3 separate regions of the Homo sapiens genome follow, and all the other regions are linked to region 1. The links come from fine-mapping of genetic effects on gene expression. A gene starts in region 1. Each other region holds a variant in brackets. All regions are shown on one strand. Distances are between the middles of the regions.

Region 1 (2,500 bases):
AAAACAGGGATCGGAGTTTTTAAGGATAATTTGGCGAGTAGGAGCTCGGGAAGTGGGGAGTGCTGACTGGTTGGGTTGGAGATGGAATGATAGGGGGTTGAAGTGAGTTTTTCTTGCTGTCTTCTGTTCCTAGGTGGGATTGCAAAACTTGTTGAGCCAGATTACCGGTCTGGGTGAAAAAGCAGAGTGGCATTCTTCCTGGAGGAGCTGGCTGAAGATCTGTAGAGGGCCCATGTGCCACGTTCAGAGCACTGTTGGGCTGTGAGGTGCCAGGCATGCCCTGCCTCCTACGTGGGCCCCTATGGCCTGGCCTTGAAACCGCCACTGCAAAATTATAACCGAGACAATGAAAGAGATCTGACCTAACCAACTCCATCTTGCTTCTAACCTCCAAGCTGTCCTTGTTCATTCCTGAGCGTAGGCTGAACTAACCTTGGGAAGGAATGAGTTTATAGTTTAACTTCAAAACAAAAATAGCCCTTTCCCGGGAAAACAACAACAACAACAACAAAAAACAACCTCTTCTTGCCTGGGACCAGTTGGCCTTTGGAGGACTAACAAATTAGCTATAAGATTAGAAATTACAGTTTAGAGGCCATACAGCCTTTGGTTGCAAGAGTCTGAACGTCCCCCAAATTGTTCCTGGGAATAACATCACTGTTGTAAAACCTACCAACACCCAGACTGGTAATCTGGCTCAACTAGTTCTGCAATCCCATTCAGGAACAGAAGACAGCAAGAAAAACTCACTTCGGCCCCCTATCAGTCCATCTCCAACCCGACCAATCATGCACCTCCCACTTCCCGAGCTTCTACTCGCCAAATTATCCTTAAAAATTCCGATCCGTTTTTGGGGAGACCGATTTGGCTAATAAAACTCCCTTTCCAACACACCCGGCTCTGCGTGAATTACTCTCTCTCTATTGCAATTTCCGTCTTGATAAATCAGCTGTCTAGTCAGCGGGCTGTAACCTTGGGCGGTTACAGCCTGGCCTGTCCCATCCCATCCAATAGTTCCCATCTCTTCTCAGCTCTCTCTGTAGTTTCTCTTCCTCCGCCTGCCTTTTAAGTTAGTGTTTCCCAGGACAGAGGTGACTCAGTTGTATCCAGACCGCTCTGTGACTGAACACCCACTTTCTTTTCCTTTTCCAAAAAATATATGTAACATACATGTCAACTAGGAACAAAACAGTATCTCAGGAATCCACCATCCAGTTAAAAATGGACCCTTACCCTTACCGTGCCCCTGCAGAGACCCCAATACAGCGCATTTCCCTCATTCTTTTGCTTTTCTCAAGTTTTACCACGGCCTCGTGGCCACAAGTGACAAAAGAGACAAGTGGAGGCAGCTGAGCCGGCCTTTAGGTTTCTGTACACAGGGAGATTTCCCATGGCTGGCATTTATGGAAACAACCGCTGGTATGTGAAAAACAGGTCCGTCACCGCCGTCACGACGGCCAGAGATTATACCCGCCGAGATGCCCGCGGCCCAGGGCCTACAATTTCCTCCGGCCAGCTCCTTTGGCCGCGCAAGCGCAGTGGGGCCGGCGGGAAGCGTAGGCGTGTGACGTCATCAGGCGGCGCGGGCCAGCCAGGTGCACGTGACTAAGGCCTTGGGCGCGGCAGGTGGTAGCCTTCCCGCCCTTCTGGCCTCTCCATCCCCTGCTGCGGGGGACCGCGCAAGCGCAGTGAGTACTGCACGTTGTCGCGGGCCAGTAACGTCATCAGACGTGTGTGTGTCCCTGCGGCGCTAAGAAGGGGAGACTGAGGCTGAGGCTGGGGAACATCGGGCAGCATGAGCGGCTGCGGGCTCTTCCTGCGCACCACGGCTGCGGCTCGTGCCTGCCGGGGTCTGGTGGTCTCTACCGCGAACCGGCGGCTACTGCGCACCAGCCCGCCTGTACGAGCTTTCGCCAAAGAGCTTTTCCTAGGCAAAATCAAGAAGGTAACGCGAGCCCTGGGCGAACCCTTGCTGTCTGGCTCCCGCTTTTCACCCTCAGCTGCAAGACTGGTGTTGAACTTTGTGAGATTCCCCAAACCTGCCAGAGAGATACACCCTGCGGCCGAGGCGTGTTAACACTCCGGATTCCTGAGTTCCAGGAAAACCTTCCCAGAGAAAGGGTGAGACATTTCCAAGACGGGGGACCCTTGGAAATGTGGTGGTGACGTGTTCCAGCTAAATTTTGTCAGGGGAATTCGGAAAACTCTAGGCTAGGTAATTAACAAAGCAGCCTTCATCTCAGCTGGTCTGGTCTGGAAATGTGCGGGGCTTCCTCTCTGATTCCTAAACAGCTTACACCATGTCCCTCCTCAGTCACCTTCCAGCGCCCTGGGGCTTCCTTCCCCAGGTGAGCCCAGCGCCTCTCCCTGCCATTGAGGTTCCTCAGAAATCTGGCTCCAAGATGCTTCCCAAGGGTGGCACAACCCAGCCAATAGTAACAGTTTGGTTATAAAACACTCATTGTCTTCTTAGAGTTGGAAGACTTGGGTTTGGTCTTGG
Region 2 (2,844 bases), 290 kb after region 1:
GAATGTGTCCGAATTCTCCACAAGAATAGCATTTCTGCTCATCTGCATGGTCGCAGTCACGAGCCAGATGGCCTGGTTTGCCACAGTTGTAGCAGCATTGCTCTCGCTCTCTCTTGGGCTCCTTGCAGTCCTTGGCAATGTGGCCACCTCTACCGCAGTTATAGCAGGCTTCAACAATAAGGAAAAGAAACAGGCCAAGACTATAAAACCTTTACAAAGTGTTACGTTTTAAATTATACAATACAAAACCTCAAAGGTGGAAATGCTATACACAGTTGCATGTGCTCACCTCTCCAAGCTCTAGAGGGGTATGAAAAGGAAGTGTTAAATACTTACCATCCTCCTGAAGATCACAATCCTTGGCAAGATGACCAGACTCACCACAGCGATAACAAATGTCTGGAAGAGACGAGGAAACAAACTGGAAACCTGTTTTGAGCAAAAACAAAGAATTCGGCTAGTCAGACCAGTCTTGATACTAACAAATACTGAAGTACTTCAAATTTTTCTATTCGACAAAATACCTCTATCCGAGGTAAAACCACCTCTGCCACGGCTTCTCATTCCACGACCACGGCCTCCACCAGTAGGACATTCCCGGGCCCAGTGGCCAGATCGTCCACACTTGAAGCACTCATTGCTGCTCATGGCTGCAGTCAGATCTTTGAAATATTAAAAGTAACAGCATTAAACCACTGAAAGTTCTTTTAACTTTTATTCTCTATTAAATGTATTTTTGGAAAATTATTCTGGGGAAAAAAGCTAGCTAATATATTGGTTAAAAAAATAGCTGGGCATGGTGGCTCACGCCAGTAATCCCATCACTTTGGGAGGCCGAGGTGGGTGGATCATGAGATCGAGACCATCTTGGCTAACATGGTGAAACCCCGTCTCTACGAAAAATACAAAAAATTAGCCCGGTGAAGTGGCAGGCGCCTGTAATCCCAGCTACTTGGGAGGCTGAGGCAGGAGAATGGTGTGAACCCAGGAGGCGGAGCTTACAGTGAGCTGAGATGGTGCCACTGTACTCCAGCCTGGGCAACATTGAGACTCTGTCTCAAAAAAATAAAATAATCACACAACTACATGATTGGGTATTATAGACTTATTATAATATACACCTTGATAAAAGTGATGGAATTTACAGGGTTAGGGTCAATGAAAATCCATTAAGAGAAATAATTGGTAGTGGCTGGGCACGGTGGCTCATGCCTGTAATCCTAGCACTTTGGGAGGCTGAAGCGGGTGGACCATCTGAGGTCAGGAGTTTGAGACCAGTCTGGCCAACATGGCGAAACCCCGTCTCTACTAAAAATACAAAAAACAGCCGGGCATGGCGGCATGCGCCTGTAATCCCAGCTACTCAGGAGGCTGAGGCAGAAGAATCGCTTGAACCCGGGGGGTGGAGGTTGCAGTGAGCCGAGATCATACCACTGCACTCCAGCCTAGGGGACAAAGTGAGACAGACAGGCAGGCAGGCAGGCAGGCAGGCAG[GCAGA/G]CAGGCAGACAGGCAGCCAGGCAGGCAGGCAGGCAGGCAGGCAGGCAGGCAGACAGACAGACAGACAGACAGACAGACAGACAGACAGACACACACACACACACACACACACACACACACACACACTGGCAGTAATACTCATTCACTCATTCCAAGTCCAACTTAATGGACACATTTGCATGGTTATAAGGCCTATATAAGCTTTATTTTGGGCAAATAGAAGTCATTTATTTACTCACATCAAAAAATTGGAATAACCCAAACCAATGAAGCTGTAAAATGGATTCTCGGAGTGAGGAGTCAGTGAAGGAAAATACTCTCTTAACCTTAGCACCTGACGTAGTACCTAGTTATACTGCAGCACTTGCCTGGTGACTGAGATATTCCTTAGAACAGATATGTTAAAACAAATGCAAGATACAAATCTTATCTCTAGATGGTACAAGTACAGTAGGCCCTCTATATCCATGGGTTCTGCATCCATGGCTTCAACCAACCTTGGAATAAAAATATTCAGTGGAAAAGTTGCATCTGTATTGAACATGCAGACTTTTCTTGCCATTATTCCCTAAACAATACAATGTTAACAACTACTTATTCAGCATTTACATTGTGTTAGGTATTATAAGTAATCTAAAGATGATTTTAAAGTATATGGGAAGATGTGCAAAGGTTGTAATGCAAGTACTACACTATTTTATATTGGGAACTTGAGCATAGGAGGATTTTGGTATTTGAGGGAGTTTGTGGAACCACTTCACAGATACCAAGAGATGACTGTATAATAAAAATAGTAGGAAAACGACCATGAGTTACACCAAAGCGCTAATAATAGCACCTACAGCACTGGCAACATTTGTGTTTTGTTTTCTTTTATTCTCCCCTTTCCAAATGTTTCTGTAATGTAATTTTACATTTTAAACAATGCTACTTAGAATTTCATAATAAACTCCTTTAATTGGTTATCATTTTAAAATAAAAATAAAACTCCCACTAAAGCAAATGGATTTTGTACTTATGTAACAATCTAAAAATAAATTGAGGCTATTCTTAAAATAGAATGAAATGGAATAGAACATAATGAAAACAATGCAACTACATTTTCACACTTCCATATCTAAATATTTTTACCCTTAATTCCACTGTCAAACAATGGCACACAAAGTCGTATTTTAAATATCCTCTCAAACCTAAGCACAGGCACCATCATCTAGAAAAACATATTTCCAACTGAGTAAAACTTGAGTGGATAATCGAATTAGCTAACCTAACCACAGTGCCAAAGACCCAAAACGCAGTCCGAAAAATGGCAAGGTTCTCCACTTTCAGTAACTGTTTAATCATTA
Region 3 (2,844 bases), 700 kb after region 1:
AGTGAGGAGGACAGAGCAGAGGCTGGCACTGCTGGAGAAGGTAGGTGGGGGCACCGTGGCTACTCACTCCTCCGACACCGTGTATCTGTCAGGCAGTGGCTCACAGGCCACACCACCAATCCACACGCCGTGGGCCACGTCACTGAGCCGCCGGCCCAGGTTCCTTCCTCGGATGGTCAGCAGGGTCCCACCGTCCAACGGGCCACTCAGGGGCTCAATCTGCCAGGTGACCCGAGAGAGGGGCGAATGGGATCTGAGGCTGCAGGCCAGCAGGCTTCTGCCCACAGTCACAGGCACCCAGCAGGGCACAGCCGTGCAGACCCACTGCTTAGAGGAAGGTCTGGAGGCTCAGGTGGGGCTGGGACTGTGGCCACTTGGCAGGTCACTGTGCTGGCAAGGAGGATGTGGGTGTGCATTACTGAGCCCACGTGGGCCTGGGGACGCTACTTAGGGGGTCTCCTGGAGGATGCTGAGGTCAGCTTCCAGGAGCAATGTTTGGCCATGTCATTGGTGGCTTTAGTGATCATGGTATCCCCTGAAACTAACAACATTCAGCCCTCGGTGTCTCCTCCACGCCACACTTCCAATGCCTTCTATAATTTATTCATTTCCTTATTTATTACTGTCCACCTCCCCCACTGAAACATCAGCTCTGTGAGGCAGAGCACTTCCTTTTGTTCACAGGTGATACTGCACCCATGTGTCGGTGTATGTGCCGTTTGGGTCCCCAAGAAGTGGGACCCTCGAGGGCACTGCGCATGCGCCGTGCCGGAGTGCGGGTGCCACGTGCCTCCACTGGGCATGCTTACCGCGTGGATCTCGGGGGCGGGGCAGGTGCCAGCCATGGGCTGCAGAGGCCCCCGCAGGCGGCAGCCATCACTCCACATGCACAGGTGACCCAGGTCTTCGCGGCCCAGGCACTGGGAACAGTCGGGGCTGCCCATGGCACAGTTATAGACCATGACTGGGGAGACACGGGGCAGCTCGGTCAGCCCCGCTCTGCGGTGCATGCCCCAACACCGCTGTGCCCTCCACACACAACAACTGTCAAGAGGTCTGCGCCCCATCATTGTGGTGCCCCACCCAGAGGAAGTCCTGATTCTGGGGGTCAGGATCCCCTGAGGTTCTTAGCCCCTTCCCCAAACCCCTGGGGCCTGTGCTGAGCACAGTGCAGCCCCTGCTTCATTGATTTCCTTCCCCTCACAGAGACTCCAGCTGGGAGCCTCAGGTCAGCCTCACTTTACAGAGAAGAGGCTGACGCTCAGACAGGAG[G/A]GACTCGCCTGAGCTCACGAGGCCTGTGGGTGGTAAAGCCAGATCCCACCCAGACCTCAGTGGGTCTGATCAACCCCGGCGGGGCCCTAGGATGCTGGGGATCCCTGAGTAATGTGGACTATGAGTACTTTGGGGCTTCAAACCCTCCAAGTAGCCCAAAGAGGAGGGCAGGGAGGGTTCTCCAGGACCTTGGGTATGCAGGGCCGTTCTGGGACCTTCATGGTGGGAATCTGGAGGGCACCACGTCCACCAGGGATGCCTGAGACTCCCCATGAACAGAGGAGCCCCTGGAGAGTGGACCCAACACAGACAGTCACAGCAACTGCACAGCTGCCACGCGAGGGGAGCTGACCACACCCCAGATGCCACGCTCAAGGTTGGGCGAGCCCTGGCTCATCAGGTCCTTACAAGCTCTGCAGAGGGACTGTGTCCTGTTTCCTATGGGGACGATCAGGCCCAGGAAGGCAGGGGAAACTATGCACGGAGACCCCAAGGCCTGGAGCCTGGCATGGCATGGCAGGGCTGGGATATGAGGCTGTGTGTGTGCTGGAGAACAATGGGGTGGGACATCTGCGGCTTTGGGGCAACCACTGGAATGAGTCGCACAAGGCTGAGCCCCACCCACTGCACTGAGGCCCCGAGGCCATGTGGGGCGGGTGGGGGTGCCCACCTGTCATGGGCTCAGGGCTGTCCAGGAATCGGGCTGGCCGCCCCTTTAGTTGGAGGCTGAGCGGGAACACCTGGCTCTTCCGGGTCGTGTGCAGCTGCAAAAGGGCAGAAAAGAGCATAGGGGGCATGGGCAATGCCTGGGGCTCTGCTGGGGATGGGTGTCATGGAGGCAGATGAAGTTGGGGCTGCTGGGGATGGGGGAACCAGAAGGTAGAGAGAGGCAGGGTGGGGTGAGGGGTACAGCATCTGGACTTAACGCAGGCCCGCCCTCCGCCCATGCTGGAGTCACCCCACTCACCACCACCTGGTCACAGCGTACAACAGACTCATTCACCCACACAGCCTCGAAGATCTCCTCCAGCCCAAAACTACACTCCAGGGCTGCACCCTGTGGGAAACAGGGAGTGGGAGGCGGGTTTGAGGAGAACCAAGCCAGCATGCATTGCCCTCTAACTCCAGCAGGACACCACGGGCTCCTGCTGGGAAAGGTGGGCTTGGTCGAACTGTCAGGCCTTTGCATGGGCTGTCCCGTCCCCCAAAATCCCCTTCCTGGCCATCACGTCCAATGTTTGAGGGAGGCAAGCAGTGCAGGAATGCCAAGAACTTTGGCCTCATGCGCTCAGCACCACTAAAAGCCTCTCCAGCATCCCCAGTGATCTAACCCAGGGGCCTTGTATTCAGCTCCTAAGGCTCCACTCCCAGCGGGGTTCCCCTGCTCTTCGAGCCTTCCCACCTCCCATCCTGCCCTACCAGGCCCTGCTCAGACGTGCCCCAACGCCCAACACGGCCAGACTCTCCTGCCCCGGCCTTTGCCTGAGCCCTCCCCTCGCCTGAACACCTGTCTTCCTTTCTACCACCCAGCAAAGCTCAACACAGCCTTCAGGATCCAGCTTAAAAGCCCCC

Direction of the effects. Alleles are on the strand shown, and positions count from the first base shown. SD is a standard deviation of normalised expression in the study named. Not every link is listed here.
With allele GCAGA in place of G in region 2, the expression in T cells of the gene that starts at base 1,540 in region 1 is lower (large effect, 2.0 SD a copy in GENCORD).

Evidence for each region.
Region 2: its variant is fine-mapped to the expression of ACAD9-DT in T cells (GENCORD, PIP 0.95).
Region 3: its variant is fine-mapped to the expression of ACAD9-DT in cerebellum (GTEx, PIP 0.98).

The regions. Positions count from the first base shown.
Region 1 is chr3:128,877,897-128,880,396 of GRCh38, forward strand. It overlaps ACAD9-DT (ACAD9 divergent transcript), which reads right to left and starts at 1,540. Exons shown (of 3, transcript NR_186174.1): 1 at 1,240-1,540. It overlaps ACAD9 (acyl-CoA dehydrogenase family member 9), which reads left to right and starts at 1,724. Exons shown (of 18, transcript NM_014049.5): 1 at 1,724-1,945. The coding sequence starts at 1,796. RefSeq lists enhancers at 594-1,445, 1,301-1,850, 1,446-2,298, 1,911-1,990, 2,299-2,500.
Region 2 is chr3:129,171,110-129,173,953 of GRCh38, forward strand. CNBP (CCHC-type zinc finger nucleic acid binding protein) reads right to left here. Exons shown (of 5, transcript NM_003418.5): 2 at 525-662; 3 at 337-429; 4 at 1-168. The coding sequence starts at 648. Among named protein-coding and RNA genes, the nearest start is that of CNBP, 11 kb to the right of the region's middle. The variant GCAGA/G (reference allele first, on the strand shown) is at 1,495.
Region 3 is chr3:129,573,527-129,576,370 of GRCh38, forward strand. PLXND1 (plexin D1) reads right to left here. Exons shown (of 36, transcript NM_015103.3): 10 at 2,240-2,329; 11 at 1,943-2,036; 12 at 810-964; 13 at 68-219. Among named protein-coding and RNA genes, the nearest start is that of PLXND1, 32 kb to the right of the region's middle. RefSeq lists an enhancer at 1-255. The variant G/A (reference allele first, on the strand shown) is at 1,273.